Homo sapiens: one gene and its partners. The protein of the gene in region 1 purifies or fractionates together with the protein of each later gene. This does not show direct contact. Each region holds a gene or a part of one and is shown on either strand. Other genes may lie near its edges.

Region 1 (4,346 bases):
CTCAAGCAGAACACTAATTCTAAGATTGTGTCCCCTTAGCCACATTATTTTTAAATTTCTATTCAATTGAATTATAAAGTTCAAGACTAAAAAAGTAATAAGGCCTTATATATCATTTCTTCTTTCCTATCTTAAGGTTTAAATTTCTATTGAAATTTTTATTTTCCTAGAAAATGGAATTTTTACGATATCCATTCTAAGTATGGTTCTTCTAGCTAATTCAAATTTATCCTTGAAAACTTTGCTTATTAGTCACACTCTGCTGAAGCCCTCCTAACTTCACATGGTGATTAAGCTGTATTTCTTTTGTTTTGGTTTTTGTCATCATGTTATATACATGTCTATTCTAGTTTCCTTAGCTATCTCTCTTATCTCTTCTAATTTCTTTGGAGGGAAAGACCACACTTCTTATTTTTTAACACGTTTTCCATCATCAATCCTTATGTTTAGCACACTGTAGACTAGTGATCACTGGACACACTAGGCATGTACTTGCTAGACCAAGCCATAACAGCTGCTGAAAAAGCCACTGGATGTGCCAATCACCCAAAAGCCTCACCATACACTTGTCCAGGTGCGTCTGTATGACGTCAGGGTCTACGTCCTTCACATCCAGAACGTGAAGTTCTGCTTTCACGCCATCCAGCACACGCTTGCAGTCCAGCATGCGCTGCTCGAAGTTAGCTGGCTTCTGGAAAAGCTGGAACTTTGTGGACACCTCTCGGAGTTTCCTCTGTTTGCAGAAATGAAAATATGCAATTCCCATCAGGATGATTATCTCTCTCATCATGAGCATAACAGATACTACTAAAAATTTGTACCATAAAGTACCAAAAGAAAAAAATTCAGAAATATGACCCAAAATAAAAAACTCCTAATGAATCTCAGTGAGGGTACCCGATCACCTAAGTGAACTGCATAGCCCAGTGTCAAAAATTACAACACTCAGTGTCTCAATCTCAGAAGTAATAGATTTGGATAAGAAATTTAGATAAAGCTGACCTCACTGGAATTAAAACTTCATGTTCAAAAAGATAGTTCAGGAACCTAGAACTCAAAATGCCCTTCATCACAAGTTCAGAGTGAAAGTCAATGTCATATCAACCATGAAAGAACTAAATGATGCTGCATCCAATTCATGCTCGGCCTGCCCACAGCATCAGCCACACGATACTGACAGAGGCTCTGCATTAAAGAAAAAGTGTATATAAAGCTAACTTCTAAATCTGGCTCACTCTCTTGTTTCTCATCTCAGCTATCAAAATCAGATTTCATATTTTTCCACACATGCAACAATTTGTTTCTGCTGCCCTAGGATGCAACCTTCAACACATCATCACTCCCATCCCATGGTTTACATCACAAAGAATACAAACGGTGCCCAAGTAATCAATTCTTTCTCTTTTTTGAAGAAAATTCCCAACAAGTTGAAAAGTAAAAGGAAGCTCCTGGCCTTCTTTACCTGTAGCACATCCATCTGACTTCCTCCTCTGGCAGTCCTACTCTCTGGGGAGGTCAGGGGCTGAGAACGCATATTTCTTCTCAACTCCTCTAGGGTTAGCTCATGGGCTGAGATCTCTGCTTGGATTTTCTAAAAAGAGATTGGAAAGGGGAGAGGATGTCCTTTTTTTTTTACTTAAGTATAAAAAGAGACAATACAAAAGTTCTATATCGTTGTGTAATACATGATATCGTATTTTACATAATGTTGACCTCCACAGAAGCTTTAATAAGTTTTTGTAGGCCAGGTGCGGTGGCTTATGCCTGTAATCCCAACACTTTGGGAGGCCGAGGCGGGTGGATCACGACATCAGGAGTTCAAGACCAGCCTGGCCAAGATGGTGAAACCCCATCTCTACTAAAAATACAAAAATTAGCTGGGCACGGTGGCGGGCGCCTATAATCCCAGCTACTCGGGAGGCTGAGGCAGGAGAATTGCTTGAACCTGTGGGGCAGAGTTTGCAGTGAGCCGAGATCGCGCCACTGCACTCTAGCCTGGGCAACAGAGTGAGAATCCGTCTAAAAAATAATAATAATACGTTTTTGTATAATAATAATAATATGGCCCACTGCATGGTATGACTATTGTACATGACGCACCTGCTAAGGGCTTTGCATTTGTCGTTTCTAATGTTCACAACTTATTTATAAGGAAGGAATTGTCCCAACTTCACAGCTAAGAAAACTACAATTTAAAATATACAGGACTTTTCAGCCAGGCACAGTGGCTCACGCCTGTAATCCCAGCATTTTGGGAGGCCGAGGAAGGTGGATCACCTGAAGTCAGGAGTTTGAGACTAGCCTGGACAATATGGCAAAACCCCGTCTCTACTAAAAATACAAAAATTATTGGGAGGCCGAGGCAGGCAGATCACTTGAAGTCAGGAGTTCAAGACCAGCCTGGCCAACATGGCGAAACCCCGTCTCTACTAAAACTACAAAAAATTAGCCGGGCGTGGTGGCGCGTGCTTGTAGTCCCAGTTATTCGGGAGGCTGAGGCAGGAGAGTCACTTGAACCCAGGAGGCGGAGGTTGCAGTGAGCCAAGATCGTGCCACTGCACTCCAGCCTGGGTGACATAGTGGGATTCTGTCTCAAATAAATAAATAAAATAAAATAAAATAAAATAAAATAAACTATATAAGACTTTTGCCAGAGTCTCACATAGAAAGCAAGAGAACTCCAAAACCCAAATGCTGCCCTGTAAGTAAGGTCAATCTTTCCCATTGACTCTCGGTTTTGGAGAGCAGGAGGGGTTCTCTTATAGTTGAGGAGGCAATTACAAAAGCTCTCTTTACAGCTCAAAAGCCCTCAAATGCACGGCAATACCTGAGCTTCCTGTGGAACTTGGAAAGCATCTATCCTGTCAGTCAGGTATGTGGTGAGCTGTTTGTCCAGCTCCCCCAAGCTCTCTTGCAAGACTTGAAGCATCTGGTCAGTTTCCCGCAGCACCTGGAGTTGCTTTTCCAAAGAAATCTGCTTGCTCTCTGCCTGCACAAAGGAGAAATTGAATCATTAGTTGCCCAACACAAATATAAATAGCAGAATATATATATTCTGGCCACTAAGAAAAGACCATAAAAGCTTTCATCCAAGACTTTAGCTTTCTTTATAAATAAATAATAATTACTAATGATAACAGTGAAAATGTCCCACTAGGATCTTATGTACCATGCAGCTGAATTACTAATTATTACTTCTTTCTATATATAATGTTGAAATACAAAAATGTAAAGGTTTCCCATAAGATGCATTAAACAGAAGATAAAAATGTGTTATTTATTATAATTTTAAAGCATTTTTAGGAATCAGCAATGTCTGCCAATTAAGAATATAAAACATAAGAAAAATGTCTATCAATACACAAACATCAGAGTCTCTTTTTTTCCAAAGCCTAAAACAAATTCTATAGGTGTACATACATATCAAACTACTATTTACAGCACTTTTGGGTTAAGCTTGATGTTATTCATGGGCTGAACATCAACAGTTATTATTTAATATGTGTTTGGAAGCACCTAATATTCATACCCAACCTTCCTATAAAAGAAATGTTCTTTCTCTAATTTGTGATACGAATATGTATGTTACAACCTGGATATGAACTAAGAGACTATGGCTTTCACAGCAGCTTATGTGAAATATCATGGCCCTAATATTTACTAGGATAGTATGAGTTGTTGTTCTTATATACAGCTATCATATGATCCTTAATGAAAATTAAATGTTTGTAAGTAGAAGTAATCTCAAAAATAATTTTTTTAATCATCCAGTTCTGTCTTAGAGTGTTAGATCTATTCTTCCTTTCTGAATATTTCAATACCCTCAATGCCCCTGTTAGCATTGGTTACCAACTTTAACCAACATTAAAGATTTTTCCAACATTAAAGCTCTATGATATGGAGCTTAGGGCCAGCTCCACTTCATCAATACCTAATCAACACCCATGTATGTCCCAACTCTTACCAGGTGACTTAGATCTTCATATCGGCTGTTGAAAGCCTCCAGTTTCTCACTGATTATATCATCCAGGATCCCCCCATCAATCAGAGTCTGGCCAAGCTCTCGAATCTGGGTGCGATTATCTGCCGGGTGGCGCAGAACAGATTCCAGAGACTGGAATGGAGATGGGAAAAAAAAATAATAATGCATTTACTAAGGCAAAAGGTATCAAGGATCCCCAAAATGTCTATTTGTTAAACAAGTAATTATATTTTCTAAAAATCTACCTAAGTAACAGGACCAAAAGTTAAGTAAATTACTAATTCACAAAAATATCCATCATGGGATTAAAAAATGCATAAAATTGAGAAATTAGCACAAGTGATATATGATATAATTTCACAAA
Region 2 (3,991 bases), on another chromosome or scaffold:
AGTAGACTGAACTCCCTTTCATTGAAAAAGGGACGATGAAGAAACATCAGCTCCTCTCCTGTTTATCATCTCTCCTGTTTCCTGGATATTTTTATTGCCCCCTAAGCTCGTGCTAGTCACATATAAAAAAAATTTTTTTTTGAGACAAGAGTCTCGCTCTGTCGCCCAGGCTGGAGTGCAGTGGTGCGATCTCAGCTCACTGCAAGCTCTGCCTCCAGGGTTCACACCATTCTCCTGCCCCAGCCTCCCGAGTAGCTGGGACTACAGGCGCCCGCCACCAGGTCTGGCTAATTTTTTGTATTTTTAGTAGAGATGGGGTTTCACCGTGTTAGCCAGGATGGTCTCGATCTCCTGACCTCACGATCTGCCCACCTCGGCCTCCCAAAATGCTGGGATTATAGAGGTGAGCCACCTAGCCCGGCCCAAAATCACTTAAATTTAAGATTAATCTAAGGGGATTAGTGAGCTTCTAACTGAAACAGTGTCTCGGGACTACATAATTTAATAAATCCAAAGAATTTAATAATTAGCTTAATGCACAGGGTTTTTTTGTACCTTGCCCATTCGCTGAACTTTTAAACCCTCCTACATATGAAAGAGGAACAGTACTCTTTAGTATTACATCACTGAAATTATAGAATTGCTCAGACTTGAGACTTTTGACAGTTTTTCATGAGAAGTCAGTTACATTAAATCACCCTTTGTTTGCTTTTCTGGACCTATTTTTGCTCAATCCCAGATAAAACTCCTAACCCAGGTTTGGGCTCAGCACTGATTTGGAAGCTAAAACGTTTTGAGATAAATACAAAATAGAGTCCCGTCCCAAATGACACAGGCCTTTTTAATAGCAACGAAGGTAAAATAAAGCAGGACAGCACGTCCTGAGGATGAAGTGTTTTGCAGACTCTTCTCATCGATCTGGTCAAGAAGGGAGAAAGGCTTTGGCCTCCCTGATCTTCTGCCTCACGCCTCTGCAGGACAAAGTGAGGCTAGCGTGGTGGCGCTTCAGGGATTCCAGGCGCCGGTGAAGCAGTTCGGTCTTGTCCACCTTTTCTTCCAAGTCCCGAAGAAGTGAGTCCTTGCCTAGAAGGCCGCACTTCTGATTCAGTCTGATGTTGTCCGTCCGCAGCCCCTCTCGGGCTTGCTTCGTCTTGGTCAGGATGTCTCTTCCTAGGGCGGCCTGGGCCTCGATTTCTGCCAGCTGTGTCTTTTTGCACGCGTTCTCCATGTCCATGAAGTGCAGCTTTTCCTTCACGTGGGTTATTACTTGCACACTGTTGGTCACCTTGCTGCGAAGTTTTAAAAGTTCCTCATTTCGTTCCTCAATTTTCTCATTGAAGGTTTGGTTCTCAATCTTCAGCTGTTCAAAGTCAATAAGAAGCAGACCCTGGGTCAGGTCCTCCTGGGTCCTCATCCTGGTTTCAAAATGCACCAGGCTCTGCTTCAGCTGAATGTTCTCCAGCCGCACGGCGCTCATCTCCTTCTCCTTTTTATCCTCCAACGCCTGGATCTGCTCCACCTCTCGCAGAGCAGCCTGGCGCCCGCCCCTCATCCGACAGCTGCCCATGGCCTGCATCACCACCTGCTTCTTGAGTGCCTGGAAGCGTCGCCACTCCTTCTCCACCCTGGTGAGCTTCTCCTGGCACTGCCGCTTCAACTGGCCCAGCTCCTGGTGGTACCACTGCAGGTCGTCTGCCTGCTGCTTCTTCAGCTCCTCCAGCATGCCCAGATGGCGCAGGTACGCTTGCTCTTTCTCGGGGGCCTCGGCCTCTGCGCCCCGGTCAGCCACCTCAGCGGCCTCCAGGCCCTTCTTTCTGCGCAGCGCCTCGAAGATCTTGTGCTGCAGGTATAGGTTGTAGCGCTGGGAGCGGTTCCGCTCCACCAGCAGGGAACGGTACTGGTCCAGGAGGTCGCTGCGCAGCTGCTGCTCCTGCAGCTTCTGGACCTCCTCGGACCACTCGAGGTCCTCAAACTCGTCCCTTCCATAGAGGCGCTTCCCCTCTTCCTGGCTTTTGGCCGGGCGTCCTTCCCCATCCCTCTCCTTGCTCTCCGCGCCGTCTCTCTGCGTCTCCTCCTTGTCCTCTTCCTCCCCCTCCACCCGCTCTGTCTCGGCCTCCGGGGCTGCAGCAGCCTCTTCCTCATCGATCCTGGTCAGCGGCAGAGAGGCCTGGAACCTGACTTCCTTCCCCTCTGCCGCCTGCTCCAGTTCCTCCGCCCCCGCCTCCGCCTCTAGTTCCTCGGGCCCGGCTCCGGGCTCCGGCTGGGCGGGCTCCTCAGCCCCAACCTCGGCCGGCTCTTCGGGCTCGGGCTGGGGCTCGGCCGGCCTCCCCGGCTCTCCAGGCCCCTCCTCGCCCGCAGCCTCGGCTGCCGTTAGCCCTTTCGGGGCCTCGGCCTGCTCGTCCGCGGCGGTGCCTCCCTGCGAAGCCGCTTGCTCCTCCTCCTCCTCCTCCGGCTCCGACTCCAGCTCCCCGGGTTCGGGAGAGGTCGGAGGGCCAGAGCTGGCCTTGATCTTGGACGGCCGCGCGGCCAGGCTTTCCCCGTCTCCGCCTTCCCCGCCGGGGTCCTTAGTGTGCTCAGAGCTGACGTCCATCTCCTCCCGGCTCGGCCAGCGCAGCGGACCCCGGCAGGACGCTGTTAGGTTTCCCGGGGCAACAGAAGGCGCGCGCGCTGGGCCCGGCGATTGGCCAGGCGACAGGCCGTCGTCCAGCGCCTTCTCCCCGCTGCCCGGCGAGAGCAAGCCAATGGGAGGCCGCGAGCTGACGATAGGCGAGATTGATTGGAAGCGGCCGTGGGCTCTCGCCGCGAGGGGCGTGGCGCCCCCGCCGGGCTTTCTGCCTGCCCATTTCCCACCGCCGGGCCTGGGGCGGGGCGTTCAGGAGGCTCTGGGAAAGGCGGCGGTGGCCGGCGCGGGGGGCGCGCAGGCGCAGAGCGGCGGGCCGGGCGTCCGCAAGGTGGCGCCCGCGGGGCGCCTGCGCGATGCGGCGGGGCGACAGCTGCGGCGGCGGTGGCGGCCGGGCCGGGCCGGACGGCGCCTGCGTACTGAGGGGGGACGCGGCCCGGCTGGCTGGCTCTGGCGGCGGCTGGGCTGGGGCCGCGGTGGCGGCAGCCGCGGCGGCGGGCGGCGGTTGCTCGTGCGCGGCGGCGGCGGCGGGTCCCGCGGGCGGCGGGGCGCTGACGGCCGGGGGCGCGGCGGCTGCGGCGGGCCGGGCGGCGGGCGGCGAGCGGGGGAAGATGGCGGAGCTGGGGAAGAAGTACTGCGTGTACTGCCTGGCCGAGGTGAGCCCGCTGCGCTTCCGCTGCACCGAGTGCCAGGACATCGAGCTGTGCCCCGAGTGCTTCTCGGCCGGCGCCGAGATCGGCCACCACCGCCGCTACCACGGCTACCAGCTGGTGGACGGCGGGCGCTTCACGCTCTGGGGGCCCGAGGCCGAGGGCGGCTGGACCAGTCGCGAGGAGCAGCTGCTGCTGGACGCCATCGAGCAGTTCGGCTTCGGAAACTGGGTGAGCGGCGCGACGGGGGCCGGGTCCCGGCTAGGGCACTGGAAGGCCCGCGCCTCTCCTGTAATCGGGCGCGCAGGCAGCGCTGGACCTGCTCGCTCGCTCCGCACCCCAGAAGGCCCCGGAGGTGGGGAGGGCGACGCTGCCGGTTTATAGTCGGGCACCTGTCGGAACCTATGCTCTGAGAGGCTGTGACGCGCCCAAGGTCACACAGCCGAGACGGGGCCGAGTGGGGCTTTGAACGCTGGCTTCTGACAGCAGAGCCATTTCCCTCACCTTCAGGGACGCCTTCACAGGCGTTTGCGGAGTGCAGACGTTGGGCAAGACTCGGTGCCTTACCTGAGTTCGTGGAGACAGGCAGGCCCACAGACTCGACAGAAAGCGGTGGGAGCACCAGGGAAGGAGAGCGGTGGGCGCCCTGCGGCTTGTCTCGGGGTCTCTGGGGCGGCCCCGTTTGCTTTCTGTCACTGTATGCATGTGCCCTGTGTGGTCC
Region 3 (4,346 bases), on another chromosome or scaffold:
CAAGCTGGGGAGGCCTCCAGAGCCCTGCCAGCAGCCCCCTCCCTGCACTGGCCCCTGCCTGCCCTCCCCTGGGGGTCGTTCAGAAGTGCCCTGCCCATCAGTGCCCTGCTTGTGGCTGCGACGCGCAATGATTCCTGCAATGCGCAACGACTCCCGCGATGCGCAGTAATTCCGCTGGAGATGCACAGGCCCTTCGCCCGGATGAGCTCCTTGGTCTTCAAAGACTCCCAGAAGCCAGGGCCACCCCTGAGACCCAGAGAGGAAGTTCCCTGGGGCAGCTGAGCTAGCGAGATCGTCCCCTGGTTGTCTGGCTGGCTTCTGAGCCCACGCGATGCCTGGGAAGCCGGCCAGGCTGGAGGGAGAAGCCATGCCTTTGTGTGTTCCCGTGTGTTACTCCCCTGTCCTGGAACCTCACATGGCTCCCCACTGCCTGACCAACCCTTCGGTTCAAGGCTGTGAAGGACCCCTCAGACCCTGCCTGGCTCTCCTGCCTTGGTGTTTTTTTAATCTCCTTCACTTAAATGCCCTGCGTTCAAAGCAAACTGAATTCTTAGCATATCCTGAACATACCTCAGGCTCTTACTCTGTTCCTGCCCCCACGGATCACCACCTCCCAAACAACCTCCCCCAACCTCTTGGTTCCTAACTGGCCCATCTAAATGCCTTCCCAGGCCAGGTGCATGGCTTGCACCTGTAGCACTACTCCTTGGAAGGCTAAGGCAGGAGGATCCCTTAAGGCCAGGAGTTTGAGGCTGCAGTGGGTTATGATCATGCTACTGCCCTCCAGCCTGGGCAAGAGAGTGAAACCCCATCTCTGAATGAATGAATGAATGAATGCCTTCACAAGGCAGCTTCCACCTAGAAGCCATCTCAGACAGACCCCACTCACCCGGGTATGCCATCACCCCAGCATTTCTGGCAGTTCCACTCTAGGCCTCCATCCCGTCCCCTGGGAAATGGGGGTGATAATAGGACCTACCCTATAGGGTTGTTGAGCAAGTCCCAGTGGGAGGACGGCAGGGGAGAACGGGCAACATGGCTGGCCTCTGTCTGTGGGTCCAGAGGGCCAGATGCCTTGCGCTGGGTGAGGCCATCCTAGAGGCAGGAGAGGAGAGGAGGCCCCAGCGAAAGGCCCCAGCCCACTTGTGTTGCTGTGGGCAGCAGGGGAGGGAGAGAGGCCTACAGGGGGCCTCAGCAGTCTCGAAGTCGCCCAGCTAGGCCATCACTGGCTGGGCTGGGGTCAGGGAACCATAGCTGATGGGGAATGCATGGAGGACAGATGACCAATGTGAACTGATGGGACTCAGTTTCTCCCCTGGGCCTCAGTTTCCCTAGCTGTACAATGAAGTGGCTGTGATGCTGACACCTTGGTGTTCTGAGGAAGCTGTGCTCTCTGTGGCTGCCGCAGGGGCAGGAGAAGGCCGGTCATGCTGCTCTCTGGGCCAGAACCTCTCCCCGGGACTCAAGACCACCCCCGGTGTCTGGTCCTTGCTTCATCTCTGCCCACCACCCCATGGGCCCTGCGGATTTGCGTAGATCCGCTTCCTGACTCCTCATCTCCAGATGGGTTATTTTCCGCATTTTCCAGAAGATGGAAACTGAGGTGTGGGGAAGACAAGAGATTTGTCCAAGGTCACCTGGAACTGCCCTTCCCTTCCCCCTCCTAGCCCTGGAGGATTGCTCCTGGGGCACCCTGTGCCATCCTGCCTGGCAGGAGGCTGGGGGAGTCTGAGGAGCCCCTCATGTCCCGGCCTTACAGATCGCTGCCCAGGAGCTGTCCGACAACCGCGTCATCACACTAAGCCTGGCGGGCAGGAGGCTGGACAAGAAGGTAAGGCGGGCAGAGGAAGGGCTCCCATTGGGAACAGTAGCCCCCACCAGCCCCAGGGCTGTGTGGCCTCATTCCGGGACCTCGGGCCACCACCTCCATCACATTCTAGGGACTGGTCCAGCACGGGGCCCTCCTGGCCACTCCAGATTAGGACTCCTTCACCTCTGAGGTAGTGAGTGTTCCATCCCTTAGGGGTATTCAAAACACACCTGGAAACCTGCTCATTGGGGCATCCCCATCTCACTTAGTGTAAGTACATTCCAAGGTCCTTACCCAATGGGGCCCTGCCTGATGTGTCCCCAGTGCCCCGACTCTCCGACCTCACCCCTCCTCCCCGCACCTCACTCTGCTTCAGCCAAACCTAGCCCCTTGTCCGTGAATTAAACGAGGCACTCTCCTCCCTCAGGAGCTTTGCACTTGCTGTTCCCTCTGCCTGGGATGCTCTCTTCCTTGAATTTTCTCACGGCACCCTCTCACCTCCATCAAGCCTTTGCTCCCACATCACCTCCTCAACGAGGCCTTCCCTGAAATTGGTCTTCAATTTCCCACCCCCTCCTTCTCGTCTCCTTAACACTATTACTGTCTAGCATACTTTCTTTCTTTTTTTTTTTTTTTTGAGACAGAGTCCTGCTCTGTTGCCCAGGCTGGAGTACAGTGGTGTCATCTCAGCTCACTGCAAGCTCCGCCTCCTGAGTTCATGCCATTCTCCTGCCTCAGCCTCCCGAGTAGCTGGGACTACAGGCGCCTGCCACCACGCCCAGCTAATTTTTTTTTTTTTTGTACTTTTAGTAGAGACGGGGTTTCACTATGATAGCCAGGATGGTCTCGATCTCCTGACCTTGTGATCCGCCTACCTCGGCCTCCCAAAGTGCTGGGATTACAGGCTTGAGCCACCATGCCTGGCCCATACCTTCTTTACTTATTTTCTGTCTCCCTAACTTGAATATAACCTCTTTAAAGTAACAGTTGCCAGGTGCAGCGGCTCACACCTGTAATCCCAGCTACTTGGGAAGCTGAAGCAGGAGGATCACTTGAGGCCAGGATTTTGAGACCAGCCTGGGCAATATAGTGAGACCCCATAGATGGATGGATGGATGGATGGATGGATGGATGGATGGATGGATAGATAGATAGATAGATAGAGTGAGTCACATACAAAAAGTGGCACTTTTTAAACCTTAAATGATTTTTTAAAGGCCATGATATTCCTTATGTCATGTGCAGGATAGTTTCAGTTTTTCACATTCCCAATAAAATAAACTGAAATGACACCCTGCTGGGAGCCTCACCCTACCTTGGGAATAGTCACCCTCTTGAAGTCCTGGCCCATCTAAAATGCCGGAGTTCTGACTCACACAGGCTCTGAGTCTTGGAGGGTCTCTGAGCACAAGCTCTGACAGCCTCAGGGTGGGGGGTTTCTGCTGGGGGACCTGGTTGATCCCAGGGGGCTGCAGCTGCCCTGGGCCTCTTGCTGAGCCTTGCAGAGTCTGAGGGGAGGGGGCCAGGCTGGCTCTGCCCACAGCTCCTATCCTGACACCCGGCTGGGGAGGCAGCAGGGCCACACCCCCATCTGCCTGAACCTAGCAGGGCTGTACCTCTCTCACCCGCATCCTCCCACTTCTCCCAGGACCTCTTTGGGAAGTCAGACCCCTTTCTGGAGTTTTATAAGCCAGGAGACGATGGCAAGTGGATGCTGGTCCACAGGACTGAGGTGGGTACGTGGGGGCCCAGGGATCTCTAAGCAGTGGGCCTGCAGTCCAGCCCCTCCACAGCTCTGAAAAAGGGAGGTGCGGTCACAGCCGCTCAGTGTGCAGGAAAACCCACAGTGGCACCTGAGGGATATGCTTCCTCCCAGCCACAGGGACGCTCACTTCTGTCTCTGGAAGTGTGGCTGTGGGTCTGCATTTTGTCACCCTGTCCCCATTGGGCTGACCCAACCCCAGAGCACTGCTGCCCAGGGCCTGAGCTCACAGCATCCCTCTCTGTCCCACAGGTGATCAAGTACACACTGGACCCTGTGTGGAAGCCATTCACAGTGCCCTTGGTGTCCCTGTGTGATGGGGACATGGAGAAGCCCATCCAGGTGAGGGGGCTCTGGGGACCCTGCTCCCCACCTTGCCAGCTCCAGCCTCCCAGTCTACCTGAGGCTCCCGGGGATGCCTTGTAGAAAGCTCTTTCTCATACAAGTGGAACGAACCCCCATCTTTGGAGGAGGGAGGACTGGAGACTGGGTCCTCATCCTGGATCTATCTGATGCCCTGAAGTACCCGGGCAGGGCCCCCACCTTTGAGCCCCTCTCTAAAACTCTCTTGCCCTCCCCAGAGGGCTGCAGAGCTGCTAGCTAGGGAAACACCTTGGAAATTATCAAATTTGGCATGATGAGGACAGTGATTACCAGTCTCTCTAAAAGCTCTCAGTCCTCTGGCTGAGTGCAGTGTCTCATGCCTGTAATCCCAGCACTTTGGGAGGCTGAGGCAGGTGGGTCACTGGAGGTCAGGAGTTCAAGACCAGCCTG
Region 4 (4,346 bases), on another chromosome or scaffold:
TCAGCCTCACAAGTAGCTGGGACTACAGGCGCCTGCCACCATGCCCGGCTAATTTTTTGTAATTTTAGTAGAGACGGGGTTTCACCATGTTGGCCAGATGGTCTCGATCTCTTGACCTCGTGATCTGCCTGCCTCGGCCTCTCAAAGTGTTGGGATTACAGGCGTGAGCCACCGCGCCCAGCCTGTTCCTTTTTATTGTGAGTAGTAGTCCATGGTATGGATGTGTCACACAGAAATTTCATTTTTTTTTTTTTTTTTTTTGAGATGGAGCCTCGCTCTGTTGGCCCAGGCTGGAGTGCAGTGGCATGATCTTGGCTCACTGCAAGCTCCACCTCCCAGGTTCACGCCATTCTCCTGCCTCAGCCTCCTGAGCAGCTAGGACTACAGGCACTTGACACCAAGCTCAGCTGATTTTGTTTTTGTATTTTTAGTAGACACAGGGTTTCACCGTGTTAGCCAGGATGTTCTCGATCTCCTGACCTCGTGATCCGCCCACCTCGGCCTCCCAAAGTGCTGGGATTATGCGACCGGCCAGAAATTTCATTTTTATGTAATCAAATTTGTAAGTCTTTTATTTCATGGGTTTGGTGTTTGGGGTGACAGAAACACCTTCACCAGTCCAAGTTACAAAGCAAATAATCCCAAGGTTTCTTTCAATATTTCTGGAGTTTTATTTACATCTTTTTTTTTTTTTTTTTTGAGACGGAGTCTCGCTCTGTCGCCCAGGCTGGAGTGCAGTGGCTCGATCTCGGCTCACTGCAAGCTCCGCCTCCCGGGTTCATCCATTCTCCTGCCTCAGCCTCCTGAGTAGCTGGGACTATAGGTGCCCACCACCACGCCTGGCTAATTTTTTCTATTTTTTAGTAGAGACAGGGTTTCACCATGTTAGCCAGGATGGTCTCGATCTCCTGACCTCGTGATCCACCTGCCTCGGACTCCCAAAGTGCTGGGATTACAGGCATGAGCCACTGCGCCCAGCCCTATATTTGTATCTTAACTCCAATTAGAATTCATCCTTGTATAAGATGTGAGAAATTGATCCAAATTAATTTTTTTTCTGAGAACTACCAAATTGCCCCAATACCACTCATTGATTAGTAAACAGTGATTTTTTTTTTCATTTTTTAAAAAACAAGCTAACCCCTTGAAAATCAGATGATCACCATTCGCAGAAAAAGTGCACACATATGGGGTGTTCACATGTGGGTCTCAAACGAGGAAGGACAGCTACAGATTACATCGTAGCTTTAGAGAAGCAGGCACCCATGCAGAGGTCAGCATCCACAGGCAAGGAAAAGGGAAGGGAGAGGTGAGACGAGGCAGGAGGATGAGGTGAAAGTTAGCCCGGCTATACAGGCTTGCCTGCCTTCAGAAATTCCAAGAAAGATGAGGATTATGAAAAAGCTACTCCAATGAGGTGCTTCAGTGGAGAAAAAACACAGGGCTTGGACCAGCAGGCCTGAGCTCTGCCCCAGGTGTTTCTCATTTACTATGTAACCTTGGGAGACTTGGTAATCTCTCTTGGTCTATTTAGGGATAAAACAGAGGTTTGGTGAGTGTACAATACCATGTCTAAAGCTCTTTTTATCTCTAAAATTGAGCTGGGGGGAAAAAGGCACTAATAATCTGGATGGAATCTATGTGCTTAAGGAATAACTTACTAACATATTCCTTAGAGAAATGTGAAAATCCCATTGTCAGGTTTCTTCTAGGATTGAGGGACAAGTTAAACCAGATGGTTTCAGGGCAATATATGGGCATTTAATTGCCATGTGGTCCATAAGCACTAGAAACCCCCCTTGTTAGTGACTAACATGAACACAAAAAAGGCAGACCTAGATCAACACGTCACCTACAAATGCTAGGAGCACAAATCCTGATGTGAGAATGAGTTCTGAGCTCTCAGTTACACCCTAGAATAGCAGGCACTGTAGATGGTTTACTAGTGATATTAGTACACTGTTGCTTCAGTCTAAACCATGTAGAAAGGCAAGCAACAGAAGGAAGAGAAATGGAAATCAAGCCAAGTGTAATCATTTTTAGTACAAAATCAAAGCTGTCCACACCTAAAATGCCCTGTGCAGTCCTAAGTGTCAAATCTCAAGATGAAAGTATTAAGATGGAAAATGTCCAGAGAAGAGAAATAAAATGAGGCCGAGCGCAGTGACTCATGCCTGTAATCCGAGCACTTTGGGAGGCTGAGGTGGATGGATCACCTGAGTTCAGGAGTTCGGGACCAGCCTGGCCAAATGTGGTGAAACCCCGTCTCTACTAAAAATAAAAAAATTAGCTGGGCATGGTGATGCATGCCTGTAGTCCCAGCTACTCGGGAGGCTGAGGCAGGAGAATTGCTAGAACCCAGGAGGCGGAGGTTGCAGTGAGCCGAGATCGCGCTATTGCACTCCAGCCTGGGTGACAAGAGTGAAACTCCATCTCAAAAAAAAAAAAAAAAATAGATTTAGTTCCTGAATCCTGGAATAGTAGAATTAAAGGAAATATCTGCAATGTTAACATTTATAGTTATGGGCAAGTAAACACACACGCTAGCCTCAGGACTCTGACACACAGGCTGCCTTGAAGGCAGAGCAACTGTAGAGCCTGGTAAGCCTACCCACTGGGAGTCTTATGTCTCATAAAGGACTGGCTTCTAGGTGAAGTTTAAAAGGGAGAGTGGCTTAACCACACTAACAGCAAGAGTATGGATGAGAATGACACAGTACAACATTTAAACCAATTAAGGCAAAACTGAGGTTCCATATATTCTCCAGGGCTGTCCTGTCTATTATGAGAGTTACTGGCCACAACTGGCTATATATTACACTTAAGTACAAATTTTTTTTTTTTTTTTTGAGATGGACTCTCACTCTGTCACTAGGCTGGAGTGCAGTCACACGATCTTGGCTCACTGCAACCTCTGCCTCCCAGGTTCAAGCGATTCTCCTACCTCAGCCTCCTGAGTAGCTGGAATTACAGGCACACACCACCATGCCCAGGTAATTTTTTTATTTTTAGTAGAGATGGGGTTTCACCACGTTGGTCAGGCTAGTCTCGAACTCCTGACCTAGTGATCCACACGCCTCGGCCTCCCAAGGTGCTGGAATTACAGGCATGAGCCACCATGTCCGGCCAGGAAAATTTTAAAAGGGTAAAAATCAGCCAGGCCAATTACAGACTCACACGTGTAATCCAGCACTTTGGGAGGCCAAGGTGGGTGGATCACCTGAGGTCAGGAGTTCTAGACCAGCCTGGCCAACATGGTGAAATCCCGTCTCTACTAAAAATACAATATTGGCCAGGTGTGGTGGTGTGTGCCTATAGTCCCAGCTACTTCGGAGGCTGAGGTTGCAGTGAGCGGAGATCATGCCATTGCACTCCAGCCTGGGTAACAAGAGCAAAATTCCATCTCAAAAAATAAACAAATAAATAAGGCCAGGCGCGGTGGCTCACACCTGTAATCCCATCACTTTTGGAGGCCAAGGTGAGTGGATTGCTTGAGCTCCCAAGTTCAAGACCAGCCTAGCCAATATGGTGAAACCCTGTCTCTATTAAAAATACAAAAATTAGCCGGGTGTGGTTGTGCATGCCTGTAATCCCAGCTACTCAGGAGGCTGAGGCAGGAGAACTGCTGGGACCTGGGAGGTGGAGGTTGCAGTGAGCCAAGATCATGCCACTGCATTCCAGCCTGGGCGACAGAGCCAGATTCCATCTGAAAAATAAATAAATAAATAAATAAATAAAAATAATAAAAAATAAATAGAAATAAAAAAGGTAAAAATCATTTCCTCAGTTCAAGTACTTGATAGCCACAAGTGGCCAGTAGCTTCTTGACTGGACAGCACAGATACACAAAACTGTAATCATCTCAGAAAGTTCTACTGGACAGTGCTACTCTACAAAGTAAATCCAATGCAGAGGTGAAGAGAGTGAATAGAACTACAGACTAGCAGTTCTATTCAGTTCGGTACAGCGCCCAGTTCTAGCGCTGGGCATGGTGGCTCACGTCTGTAATCCTAGCACTTTAGAACGCTGTGGTGAGAGAATAGTTTGAACTTGGGAGTTTGAGACCAGCTTGGGCAACATAGCGAGACCCCCATCTCCATTTAAAAAAAAAAAAAAAAAGGAAAACTACAGATTAAAGCAGAGGTTCTAGAAGGGCAAATGGTAAGGTTTCCACTCAACTAAGCTTTATCCAGCAAAAATCTACTGCATGTATAAAGAAGATAAGAGCCTTGAAGTAATATGTAATCATGGCAGCACCTGCAGGAACACTAAGAAAAAATGCTGGCCAGGCACGGTGGCTCATGCCTGTAATTCCAGCGCTCTGGGAGGCCAAGGCAGGTGGATCA
Region 5 (4,841 bases), on another chromosome or scaffold:
CAATAGACAGAGACTCTGCCTCAAAAAAAAAAAAAAAGAAAAAGAAAAGAAAAAATACAAAAATTAGCTGGGCATGGTGTTACATGCGCCTGTAATCCCAGCTACTTGGGAGGCTGAGGCAGGAGAATCGCTTGAACCCGGGAGGCAGAGGTGGCAGTGACCCAAGATCGCACCATTGTACTCCAGCCTGGGCAACAGTGAGACTCTGTCTCAAACAAAACAAAACAAAACAAAACAAACCAACCAACCCTGGATTTGATCTACCTCTCATTATCTCTTTACTCATTTGCTCACATAGCAAATGTTTGCTGAGGGCTAACTCTATTGCCACTCACAACTGCAAGGAGTAAAAAAATCGGGAATGCAAAAAGTATGTGCTTCATAATTACAGACTGTTACACTCACATAAGGCATCAAAGGAAGAGGAATGGATAAGAGAATGTTTGAGAGAATAAAAGAAAAAAAAAGAACAAAGGAAGAGGGGTCCTGTTTGAAAGTCAGTCGCAAGTTTGGGCAACTCTGGTCTTCGGGTAGCAGGGGATATAGAATGTCCAATACCAGAGCCCTTACACAGTGGAAAGCACTGACTCAGGCACAAGCCAGGCCACTGGCAATCAAGGTGACACACCTTCTTGCCACCATCGCCCTCCTAGCAGGGTCCCTTCAATGGTGTCTCAGAGCCAACCATCATATCCTCTTATCAACCACCTTTACAATCTCCGGAGCTATTTATGAGCTGACGCCCTCAACAAGTCAGCTTTCAGTACAAACTCCTAGAAAGGCAGGTCAAAGGTCTGACTCCAGAGAAAAAGGCAACAGCTCCCTCTCACAGCTGGGTTAAGTGAAGCTGGAACTCAAAGGCATATTGTTGAGAACAAGCACCCAGTGTCCAGATCAGTAAACAGCGTTTCTCACAGAAAGAAAACTCTCCATTGTGCCCCCATGGCTTCAGGTCCAGACAGGGCCCTTCCCCTGCTCTGTTGCCAGCCTCACTCCCTGGTGCTGCCCGTGGGGACCGAGATAGATGGCCTGGCAGTAAGAACAAGACACGGAAAGCTTTACCTGCCTGATTCTTTCCTTCCTTCTTTGAAGTCAGTCCCTAGAAGGCCAAAGGAGCAATTACTGGGAATTTAGCAGCCTCTGTTCAAGTTCCCGGGAATTCTGACTTTTGTTGATGCCAATGCTGTGTGATTAAGGGGAAAAAAAGGAATTTAAAATATTCATGCAAACGTCTTTTTTTTTCCATGAGACAGGGTCTGACTCTGCTGCTCAGGCTGGAGTGCAGTGAGTTTGAGCTCACTCCAGACTCAAACTCCTAAGTTCAAGTGATCCTCCCAGCTCAGCCTCCCAAGGAGCTGGGACTAAAGGTGTGCACTGCCACATCTGGCTGAGTTTTTTAAAATTCTTTTTGTAGAAATGCAGCCTCACTGTGTTGCTCAGGCTGGTCTCAATCTCCTGGCCTCAAGTGATTCTCCCACCTCAGCCTCCCAAAGTGCTGGGATTACAGGCATGAGCCACCGAGTCCAGCCTAAACTTCATTTCTAATCAAGACATTTAAAGAAAAGGAAAAAAAAGAGAATACTTATTATATGCTAATAAATACCAATTAAGACCACCACCACAACTAGTATTTGCGTTGCACCCGTGGAGAGATGAAAGGGAATGGTAGGTTCTCAGGTCCACCTCCACCCAGGGTAAGAAAGTTCTAACGTTCTGTCAGCTAACTTGCTAGACACTGTGCTCCGAACTACTTCAGCAGGGGATCCACATTGCACAGCTGAGCCATTAGAAGTCTTCAGGTGATTCGCTGAAAATCTATCTCCTTGGACCTTCACCGCACAGAGACCTAGTGCATCACAGAAATTCAATGACTGGCGACCTGCAGTGGCTCACGCCTGTAACCCCAGCACTTTAGGAGGCTGAGGTGGGAGGATTACTTGAGCCCAGGAGTTCCAGGCTATGGTGAGCCATGATGGCACCACGGCACTCCAGCCGGGGGCAACAGAGCAAGACCTTAATACACACACAAACATTTTAAAAGGAAAAAAAAAAAAAAGGCCGGGCGCGGTGGCTAACGCCTGTAATCCCAACACTTTGGGAGGCCAAGGCAGGTGGATCACTTGAGGCCAGGAGTTGCAGACCAGCCTGGCCAAAAGGGCGGAACCCCGTCTCTACTAAAAATACAAAAAATTCGCCGGAGGTGGTGGCGGGCGCCTGTAGTCCCAACCACTCGGGAGGCTGAAGCAGGAGAAGCGCTTGAACCGGGAGGCGGAGGTTGCAGTGAGCCGAGATCGCGCCACTGCACTCCAGAGACAGTCTCAAAAATAAATAAAAATTAATTTTTTTAAAAAAAGAGCTTCAATAACAGAATCTTCTCCTTCCACCCGACTGTCCATCAAACACGTATAATCAAATGATGCCCACTCTCCACAGATGTCTTTTCTGGAGAAAATAATACGCTCGTTCCTCTAATTAGCCCATCGGTTTCAGGTTCATCACTCTGCTATCTTCTCCTGGAGTTTACAAAAGCCCTTCAGAGTGTAAACACCGATGTGGATTCAATCCCACTTCCGGAGAGAGGATCAAACCAGGAATCTAATACAACTGAAAACGGAGCCTGAGCCAGGTGTATCACGCGATGCACTGGGCTCCAGCAGGATTACCCCTGGAATCGGCGTCTGCACCCACTCCCAGCCCTCGTGCTAACTGCGTACGCTTAGCAGAATTTCTCTGATCCTTGGACCCAGCTGCGTAAAAATAAACTTCCTCTCCTGCCACGGGCGCGAATAACTGTGTTAACATCAAATAAAAACGTCTGGGAGAAATACCAAGTTAGGGTCGCTGTCATTAGCTGCTTTCAAGAGAGAGGCGCCCCTACCGCTCTGCTGAAACTTTTAAACGCTCCAGCTGGGTCGCCGTTAAAGTCACAAAACCAGAACCGGAGCCCCATTACTAACCCCTACGCAGGATCCCGCTAGGCTAGGGGGATCCCTGGGGAAGCGGAGTAGAGGACGGGCTGCAGGGGACGGAGGGGCGCCTCCCCGAACCCTGCTCCGGGCCGGCCGGGGGACCCTGCGGGCCGCAGTGGCACAGACACCACCCCCTTCCCCGGCGACCACAGCCTCCGTCTCACCGCGAGACCCGGGGACGCGTGGACTCACCCTGGGGGCAGGGACGACAGATTTGGGGGACCGGACACGGACCAGGCCCTGTTGGACCCTGTCACAGACCCACACACCGGGGACAGAACAAAGAACGGAAGTTCCCCCTCGTTTCGCTTCCGGGTCGGTTGTTCTTGCCACTCACCCGTACCCCCAACGCCCACTTGTTCTGTCTAGGAAAATGGGAGGTCCTCGCCTCTCTGTGGTTTGCTGACTCAGGGCGGCTGGCAGGCGGCGAGGGCAAGGAGCGCGATCGCTGACGCGGCACTCGGGGATCTTTCGCTGCGGGGGCTGGCCGGCTGCGCCCTCTGCTGGCCACGAATGTGCGAAAGCGGCCGACCACGGTCCTGGGCCTCAGGACATGTGCTCCAGCGTCGCCGGCCTTGGGGGCGGGCGGCGGGGGCGCGCGGGGATGTCGAGCCCGCGCTTCTCAGGCTGGCTCGCGAAGGGCAGCAGTAAACATACAATTATTGAAGGATTCATCAATATTAAAAAATGAACCCTGATTTAAAACTTGCCTCCGAACAAACCGAGTTTTTTTTGTTTCTTGTAAAAATGCCCCCTTTAAATTACCCACATCTGAAGAAAACATTCCAGTCCATCACAGAGTTGACATGAGGAAAAAACCCGTGTACAGGTGATGAGAGCAGAGAAGAGGAAGCTTACCGGCCGGGCGCGGAGGCTCACGCCTGTAATCCCAGCACTTTAGGAGGCCGAGGCGGGCGGATCACCTGAGGTCAGGAGTTCGAGACCAGCCTGGCCAACATGGCGAAACCCCGTCTCGACTAAAAATACAAAAAAATTACCCGGGCGTGGTGGCAGACGCCTGTAATCCCAGCTACTCTGGAGGCTGAGACAGGAGAATCGCTTGAACCCAGGAGGCGGAGGTTGCAGTGAGCCGACATCGCACCACTGTACTCCAGGCTGGCCACAGAGTGAGACTGTCTCAAAAAAAAAAAAAAGGAAGCTACAGGTGGAAGCGAGGCGGGGATAGTCAAGGAAGTGACCGTGTCCTGGAGACGCGGCAACCGTGGTGACCGCAGTCAACACAGTAAGCCCCAGCATTCGCATTGTAATTGAGCTCATTCAAGCTGAGCGCTCTCCAGTAGGGACTTTCCCCTGTAGGGAGCATGCGCATTTTGATTTCACCTGTCCTCAAACTGACCCTTTGCTCATTATCTTGGTAAAAAACACGCCCCTGGGTGGAAATTTAAGATGCTAATGAAACATGCAATGTATGAACAAGCCTGTACACCCACTGCGCATGTGCACCTAGAGGACCACCCAGAACATACTTACTAGTAACACTTCTCCCACCCCCTTATGAATAATCGTGTAAGACCCCTTACAAAGGGGGTCTCTCTAGAGCCAGCCTTTGCTGTTTCATCCTTAGGAGCAGCCCTCCCTGAACTAACTCTCTCTCTATCTCTCTCTCTCCCAGGGTGTACTGTCTACTCTGCACTTAACTTTCAAAATACTATTTTCCTTTTGCAATAAATTACTCTATGCTGGATTTCCTTTGACATGTGTTTCTTTTATTCTTTTTCCTTTTTTTTTTTTTTTTTTTGTTGTTGTTGTTGTTGAGAGGGAGTCTCACTCTTGTCACCCAGGCTGATTCTCGTGCCTCAGCCTCCCAAGTAGCTGGGACTACAGGCGTGTGATACCATACCCGGCTAATTT
Region 6 (4,346 bases), on another chromosome or scaffold:
AGCACCTTGACTTTGGTCTGGCTTGGGAATTTTATCATGCTGTCCTACACATACATGTATGAAAGTTCTTTCACTGAGTAGGACTAGATTCTATAATCATAACCTGACAACTGGTGAGGAGCCAAAGCAGGGAGAAGGGACTCGTGTGGTGGGAGCAGCACTCCCTCTCTGCCCACCCAGCCCTGCCCCACCACCGTTACAGGTTTCCACCCTGAAAGCAGATACAAAGAACCAGCATTTTGTGCTGCTGCATTCATGAGGAAAAACAGCCTGAAGTCAATGCGTGTGGAAAAGCCATAAGGTATATATTGTCAGGATGCCAAAGGAGACAGGCTGGCTTTCAGGTGCCCACAGTACCTTGCCAACTTCTTTCTCTGGGACTCCTCTCAAAAGGGCAAAGAACTCCACGTGTTCTCTCCCAGTCAACAGCTCTGTGATGGCATCAAACTGAGGGCAGTAGCCCATGTTCTGATGTACTTCATGGATGTTTGATAAGATACTGCAAAGGACAAGAAAACTACTTAGATTTTAAGCAGGTAGAGATACTCTGGTTAGACAATCTGGCCTAATGTTCCTGTAAAGTATGCTTCTCCATTACAAAGATACCAATACATCTGCTGCTACTTGAAAGCACAGCCTTTCTGCCCCCAGGATGCTAGCTCTTCCTGGCAGGCAGGGTTCCTGCCTCTACCCTCCCCAGTCCTTGCACCTCCCTGGCTCTCTGAACACTTCAGTCTGCAGGTGCAGTCCCATTTCAGAATTTCTGAGGTCATGCCAACCACTGCACATTCTTTACCAACAATCTCAGTCACACTACCCCAGGGCTTTAACGCTAAGGCCCCATCCTAGACTTCACTCATATGCACCATTCACATGCACCAAATGAGAAGGCCCAGAAATTTTGAGTGTGAGCAACACAGAACCTAGAGACACAATTTATGTGGTGGTGGGGTGGCTTTGGGGTTCTATGAAGCCAGTCAAGTGAAGAATCACATGTGAGAGAAGTTCAGTGTTCACGTTCCAGACTGATGACTGCACCTCAGCCACAGCGGCATTGCCATGAACTTGGCCTTCTGGCAGCATTCATTCCTCTCTGTGTATCTAATTAGCACCCCCAGGGTCAGCCTTTTTCAGAATTAGGATTGAGGCACACGTGGACACCGTGCCAGGCCCTCACAGCTATACCAACCAAATCAGTTCTTACAACCAGTCCCTGTGACAAACCTTACTATGGGCTGGTTATTACTGCCACTGCTATATGCGTCAGGAGCTTGGTACTAGGAGCAAGCCTAGGAAAGCAGTTGTGCAGCGCTAGGCCTGCTATTCCCAGAATGTCTGTTCTCTTAGGATTCCTTTACATTGCTACTGCAAAAATGTAAGAGACAGGAGAGGAGATCATGAATACATTAATTTCCTTGCTCTTTTCAATTTTATTGGCTATCCCCCTGTCCAGTGTGTTCAAATTGTGAGTCATTGTTCATTAGTGGTTTGGGAAATAAATTTAGTGGGTCATGACCAGCACTTTTTTAATGACGCAGTATAAGGTAGAATAAGAAATAGCAGAGTGCACTACAATTAGTAACAGTAGGTACTGCTTTATGAAACTTTAGGTTATACATGTGTCTACATGTCTGTGTGTACATACTAGGTTGAGATATAAAATGTATTTCCCACAACGGTCATGGTCAAAAAACTCTGAAAGCCACTGCCTTGTACTATCTCTCCACATAATAAGTCCAGAGAAGCCGGGCGCAGTGGCTCATGCCTGTAATCCCAGAACTTTGGGAGGCTGAGGCAGGTGGATCACCTGAGGTCAGGAGCTCGAGACCAGTCTGGCCAACATGGTGAAACCCCATCTCTACTGAAAATACAAAAAAATTAGGCAGGCATTGTGGCGGGCACCTGTAATCTCAGCTACTCAGGAGGCTGAGGCAGGAGAATCGCTTGAACCTGGGAGGCGGAGGTTGCAGTGAGCCAAGGTCGCGCCATTGCTCTCCAGCCTGGGCAGTAAGAGTGAAACTCCGTCTCAAAAAAAAAAAAGCCCAGAGAAGCCCCACATATTTAAAGTACTTAGAGTAACATTATCTAAGAAGCCTATAAAATGTAGCTGTATTCCCAAAGATCAGATTGCTTTGTGACCTGTGCAGTCTCAGAAAATGGCCTAACGGTGGCTCAGTCAATTTGTATGCTCTTTAGAGAGGGCAATTTACTTTGTAGGAATTGTTCCTGAGGAAATAATAAAAGATGTATACAGGGACATATTTACATAGTGAAAAATGGAAACTAATGTGTCCAACATTTATAAGGAATTTATTAAATAAATTATAGGTACATGTACATAGGGGGATTTTATGTAGCAATGTAAAATTCCACATCTTAGGAAATGTAACCCACTGGGAAATATTCATAATACACTCATTAACAATAAAAACTAATTTTAAATTCTACATACAGTATGATCTCAATTGTATGGCACATTTATATGTGTATATAAGACAGATGTGGGGTGATGGAAAAGTTCTAAAACTGGATTGTGGTGATGGTTGCAAAACTCTCAATTTACCAAAAATCACTAAATTATACTCTTAAAAAACAAGCAAATTATATTGTATGTAAATTATACCTGAATAAAGCTGTTAAAAGAAGAGAATGAGACTGAAAGGAAATGTAAATTGTGATTATCTCTAGATATTGAAATCATGGATGATTTTATGTGCTTCTTTACCCTTTACTATATTTCAACATTTTTATGAACTCTAAAAATACCACTGTAATCAAAAATAACAACCTATTTCTTTAAATAAATTAAAAACAAAGTCTTTGCAGCAAAATACAAGCCACTTCTTTTCTCACCTATTTTTGTTAAGGAAAGCATCTCCTCTGGTAACAGTGGTATCTCCTGTTAACATCTTGAAAGTTGATGATTTTCCAGCCCCATTAACTCCCAGGAGCCCAAAGCACTGAAAAGGAAAGATTAAGTTGTATAAGCAAACTCTAAAAACATGAATATAAATGCCCCTAACACGTAACTACCTCAAACCTTCAATTCTTAAATATCAGAGAAGAATCAAATATTTTCTTGGTTTTAACACATCGTATAGATATTTAAATATGTATTTCATAATGGGACCATTTTAAGTGTGGCTGTATTTATAAATATTATTTGAGTTGTCAAGTTGAGGCCAAAGTTAATGTGTGAAAAACAGTAATGAAAGCCAGCTAGCCAAATTGCACCACCTACTCTGGCAAAAGGGCATAAAAGAACACAAACGGAAACCAGAAAGGAGAAAATCTATTTTTAAAAAACTATTTGAATGTCATCACCATCCCAAATGGATCACAAAAGCATGTTTTAGATGTGCGTGCTTTTTCTGTTTTTGTTGTTGACATGAGTCTCACTCTGTCACCAGGCTGGAGTGCAGCAGCGCAATCTGGGCAACCTCCCCCTCCTAGGTTCAAGCAATTCTCCTGCCTCAGCCTCCCGAGTAGCTGGGACTACAGGAATGCACTACTATGCCCAGCTAATTTTTGTATTTATAGTAGAGATGGGGTTTCACCATGTTGGCCAGGATGGTCTCAATCTCCTGACCTCGTGATCCGCCCACCTCGGCCTCCCAAAGTGCTGGGATTACAGGAGTGAATCACTGCGCCCAGCCCCATGCTTTTTCTTAAATTGTATTGGATTCTCTGAAATCATTCTCTTGACATACAGGGTCCCTCTCTTCTCGATGACTAATTGCTCCATCCTGGCATAAATACAGAAGCCTTTAAAATCCACTTTTACCTCTTAACGAGCATCGTTGCTTGATTGGGTAGAGATAGTCTGAACTAATAGGGACAAACGCAATATAGACAAAGTGTCTTTACCTCACCAGGAGGAATGCCCACGCAAATCCTGTCAACAGCAGGCTTCCGCTTCCTTCTATATATCTGCAACAAACAAAATGTAAACATTCATAAGCCTCAGTGACTCACAGCTCTCCCAAGCAACTGTGGAAGGCAGGACTATAAACCACATACACTGCAACATAAGACTTGTCAATAACCCTAAGCCATAGGCATATTTGATGTGCCAAGAGCCTTGGTCTGCGTTTGTGGCGACTGGCTTCTGAATGATTCTGAAGCTCAAAATAAAAGTGAACTTACTTTTTAACCTGTCTTTTTAGAACCGTATCATTCATTATTATCTACATAATTTTTCATCTATTCAACATATATATGTATTGCAGGTATTTTAAAAATTAAATTCCACAGAGTAGAAATTTGTAATAAAAATATTGCAAATACTGTACAGATTCCAAAAAAGTAAAATTTGGAGATGCTGGCATCTAGAGGGCTGATATAGA
Region 7 (3,557 bases), on another chromosome or scaffold:
ATATTATGAGCATAAAGTAGAATGGGCTTTGTTGGTAGTCAATAGATGCAATAATAAGCTTTAGGTTTACCTAAGTAGGTGAAAATATCCTGTAAGCAGATGCAAATCCAGAGTTCTAGAAAGATTTTTGGCCTCTTCATTATTGAATTGGATAAAATATATTGATTAAATGAGATAACACATGAGAGAGTATCTGTTAAAATGCTTAAGACTATTAGAGGGTATTAAGTACATCTTAGTTTCCTTCTTTCCTTCAGTATTCATGATGATTTAGGGCATTAAAGGAGAGACAGATATGCTAACATCCACTCTTGTGCCATGTGTCTTAACAGGACTCCACATAGGCCCATCTGTAATTCTACTCCCTCTAGTTAGAGGCTTTAGATTGGCAAGTGGGTTGCAAAATTCCTTTTATGTTTTCCCTGATCCCCATGTTAGCCTGTTTGCCTCTCTAGAACCAAGAGCATTCTTGTGTGTAAATTTGAAATTTCTGTCACTTTATCACTCATATAGTCTCCTTTGGCATTCCCATGTACATCTGAGATTTGAAATTTCTATCACTTTAGGCCAGGCGCGGTGGCTCACGCCTGTAATCCCAGCACTTTGGGAGGCCAAGGTGGGTGGATCACGAGGTCAGGAGATCGAGACCATCTTGGCTAACACGGTGGAACCCTGTCTCCACTAAAAATACACAAAATTCGCTGGGTGTGGTGGCGGGCACCTGTAGTCCCAGCTACTTGGGAGGCTGAGGCAGGAGAGTGGCGTGAACCCGGGAGGCGGAGCTTGCAGTGAGCTGAGATCACGCCACTGCACTCCAGTCTGGGTGACAGAGCAAGACTCCATCTCAAAAAAAAAAAAAAAAGAAAGAAATTTCTATCACTTTATCACTCATATAGTTTTATTTGGCATTCTGTGGGAAAGGGATTTCAGCTTAAGAGGATGATTGTCAACATAATCAGAAGTATTATAGAAAATGTGTCTTCTGGATTTTTCTGTAAAGCAGACTATAAATGAGCTATTTCCCTTAAGATAGTTGAAATTCTGAATTTATTTTTTTTTTCAGTTTGGCCCAAGTCCATTCTGTCATACCGCCCTGTAGGGGTGTTTTACTACAAAAGATCCACTACTTACCTTCTTCCTATGTGAGCTTAGTCATTAAATCAATGTTCAATGAATTGTCTCCAAACTGTGATGAACATAAAATTGCATACTTCATTCAACAAATATTTATTGAACTTGTGCTATATGTCAGATCTGGGAGAACAGAGCTCTGTGGAGAAAAGTGAACAAAGCAAAGCTCCTGCCCCCATAGAGCTTATGTTCTAATGGCAGAATATAGACAATAAGAATTTAAGCATTCAGTGCACATATGTAAGTACTTGGAGATAAAATCACGTACGACTAGAATACAGAGGTGATAGAGGGGTGGTCAGAAAAGACCTCTCTAAGGAGCCAGTGTTTGAATAGAGACAGTAATGAAGTGAGAGTTGGATGGATAAATGTGGGTAGAGGATTTTAGATAGCCAAAACAAGTGCAAAGCCCCGAGGTGCAGGGGTAGGGCTGGGTGTATCAGAAGAGTAAGGAGGCAATTATTGATGGGAGTGAAGTGAGCCAGAAGGAAAGGGGTAAAATATGATGTCTCTGTAGGCCATGGGAAGGACTTTTTTTTTTTTTTTTTTGAGACTTAGTCTCGCTCTGTTGTCAGGCTGGAGTGCAGTGGCACGATCTCGGCTCACTACAGCCTCCGCCTCCCGGGTTCAAGTGATTCTTCTGCCTCAGCCTCCCGAGTAGCTGGGACTACAGGTGTGCGCTACCACGCCCAGCTAATTTTTGTATTTTTAGTAGAGACAGGGTTTCACCATGTTGGCCAGGATGGTCTCGATCTCTTGACCTTGTGATTCGCCCGCCTCAGCCTCCCAAAGTGCTGGGATTACAGGCCTGAGCCACTATGCCCAGCTGATCCTATTATGTTTTAAGTAAGGTTTTTGGCTTGGCCAACAGAGTGAGTGGTAGTGCCATTTTCTGAGACAGGGAACACTGAGGGAGAACACTAGATTTAGAGGGTGGAAATCGAGCATTTTGTTTTGCACATGTTAAGTACAAAGGTCAGATAGGATATACACTTGGCCCTCCCTATCTGCAGGTTTTGCATCTGCAGATTCAACCAACTATGGATTGAAAATATTCAAAACAGTAAAAACAGTCTGGGCACAATGGCTCACTCCTGTAACCCTAGCACTTTGGGAGACCAAGCTGGGAGGATCACTTGAGTCCAGGAGTTTGAGACCAGCTGGGGCAACATAGTGAGACCTTGTCTCTACAAAAAAACAAAACAAAAAAAAAAAAAACTAGCGGGGCATGGTGGCACACACCTGTAATCCTAGCTACTCAGGCAGCTGAGGCAGGAGGATCGCTTGAGCCTGGGAGGTCAAGGCTGTAGTGAGCTGTGATCACACCACTTCACTTCACTCTGGACAACAGAGTGAGACCCTGTCTCAAAAAAAAAAAAAAAAGGAAGAAAACCAATAAAATATAACAACAGTAAAAAAAAACAAAATACATTTTAAAAGGTTAGAGTTCCAAGGGAGGGAAAACAATACAGTATAACTGCGATTTACTTAGCATTTACATTAACTTAGATATTATAATTTAGAGATGAGATGATTTAAAGTTTATGGGATGATGTGTGTAGGTTATATGCAAATACTACACTGTTTTATTTAAGGGACTTAAGCATCTACAGATTTTGGTATCCTTGGGGAGGTCTGGGAACCAATCTCCCATGGATACTGAGGGATGACTGTACAAGACTGATGTCAGGATAGTTCAGGAGTGGAGAGAGAGACCTGGGAGTTACCAGCTTTCAGGTAGTTTTAAAACCATCATACTGTATGAGACAGACATGGATTTTGTCCCCAAGGGGTTTGCAGGCTAGAAGGAAAGAGAAAATTTGCAGAATAGAAAGTGGTAACATGAAGTGATAAGGAACACTTGGGGAAGTGAATCATTTCATTTGGTTGGAGTCTAGATGTAAAGCTTACTGGTTTCCCTTTTAAAGGGAAGGTTGCAAAGTACGATTTGACCTTGAGATCATTTTATCCAGTGATAGCAAGGTGTTAAGCCTTTTGAATAGAGGGTAAAAATTAACCCTGGAATTATTGCCTCCTCCTTCTTAGTATTCTTTAATTTATTATGAAGACCTATTATTTTCATTCACAAACCACTCTCAGATTTTCCCTGTTCTCTCCATTATTACTGACGCCACCTAAAACTAAGCCTTCCTCCCTTTACTCCCCTGGCATCTCACTCTAAAATAGTCTGCAAACCATTTTAACATAATATGCTAAATACTTCTGTCTTACCTGTACAACCTTCTTTTTCACTCTACTTCTCCATCATCCTGTTCATCTCATTAAATTATAGAATTCATGGTACATGGTGAATAGTGAAAATTAATCTGAAAAAAAGTGGCAACAAAAACCAACCACCTGGATTGGTTCTCTCAAATGTCTGGTTATGGAATATGTATGGGTGACAAATTTTGTCTTGCCTAGAT

The links.
Region 2: the proteins of UTRN (region 1) and CFAP184 purify together in Homo sapiens (co-immunoprecipitation; one large-scale study listed by IntAct). This does not show direct contact.
Region 3: the proteins of UTRN (region 1) and CPNE2 purify together in Homo sapiens (co-immunoprecipitation; one large-scale study listed by IntAct). This does not show direct contact.
Region 4: the proteins of UTRN (region 1) and MARK3 purify together in Homo sapiens (affinity purification with mass spectrometry; 2 studies listed by BioGRID and IntAct, with this or other methods). This does not show direct contact.
Region 5: the proteins of UTRN (region 1) and ZNF3 purify together in Homo sapiens (co-immunoprecipitation; one large-scale study listed by IntAct). This does not show direct contact.
Region 6: the proteins of UTRN (region 1) and ABCA1 purify together in Homo sapiens (co-immunoprecipitation; 2 studies listed by IntAct, with this or other methods). This does not show direct contact.
Region 7: the proteins of UTRN (region 1) and CTNNAL1 purify together in Homo sapiens (co-immunoprecipitation; 2 studies listed by BioGRID and IntAct, with this or other methods). This does not show direct contact.

What each region holds. Positions count from the first base shown.
Region 1 is NC_000006.12:144,487,316-144,491,661, reverse strand, and holds part of UTRN (utrophin), read right to left. Parts: intron 4,115-4,346; coding exon 3,965-4,114; intron 2,990-3,964; coding exon 2,828-2,989; intron 1,592-2,827; coding exon 1,463-1,591; intron 734-1,462; coding exon 560-733; intron 1-559.
Region 2 is NC_000004.12:7,040,349-7,044,339, forward strand, and holds CFAP184 (cilia- and flagella-associated protein 184), read right to left. Parts: upstream 2,654-3,991; 5' UTR 2,591-2,653; coding exon 923-2,590; 3' UTR 501-922; downstream 1-500. Other genes in the region: TADA2B (transcriptional adapter 2-beta), read left to right, coding at 3,232-3,501. UniProt on the Homo sapiens protein: In complex with CFAP263, acts as a regulator of ciliary beating that connects radial spoke 3 (RS3) to the inner dynein arm (IDA) and the nexin-dynein regulatory complex (N-DRC).
Region 3 is NC_000016.10:57,115,737-57,120,082, forward strand, and holds part of CPNE2 (copine-2), read left to right. Parts: intron 1-1,759; coding exon 1,760-1,831; intron 1,832-3,458; coding exon 3,459-3,542; intron 3,543-3,824; coding exon 3,825-3,914; intron 3,915-4,346.
Region 4 is NC_000014.9:103,468,563-103,472,908, reverse strand, and holds part of MARK3 (MAP/microtubule affinity-regulating kinase 3), read right to left. Parts: intron 1-4,346. UniProt on the Homo sapiens protein: Serine/threonine-protein kinase. Involved in the specific phosphorylation of microtubule-associated proteins for MAP2 and MAP4. Phosphorylates the microtubule-associated protein MAPT/TAU. Phosphorylates CDC25C on 'Ser-216'.
Region 5 is NC_000007.14:100,078,474-100,083,314, forward strand, and holds the start of ZNF3 (zinc finger protein 3), read right to left. Parts: upstream 3,251-4,841; 5' UTR 3,162-3,250; intron 1,184-3,161; 5' UTR 1,063-1,183; intron 1-1,062. UniProt on the Homo sapiens protein: Involved in cell differentiation and/or proliferation.
Region 6 is NC_000009.12:104,788,069-104,792,414, forward strand, and holds part of ABCA1 (phospholipid-transporting ATPase ABCA1), read right to left. Parts: intron 3,931-4,346; coding exon 3,868-3,930; intron 2,961-3,867; coding exon 2,854-2,960; intron 2,832-2,853; exon of another isoform or gene 500-2,831; coding exon 358-499; exon of another isoform or gene 1-357. UniProt on the Homo sapiens protein: Catalyzes the translocation of specific phospholipids from the cytoplasmic to the extracellular/lumenal leaflet of membrane coupled to the hydrolysis of ATP.
Region 7 is NC_000009.12:108,944,421-108,947,977, reverse strand, and holds part of CTNNAL1 (alpha-catulin), read left to right. Parts: intron 1-3,557. UniProt on the Homo sapiens protein: May modulate the Rho pathway signaling by providing a scaffold for the Lbc Rho guanine nucleotide exchange factor (ARHGEF1).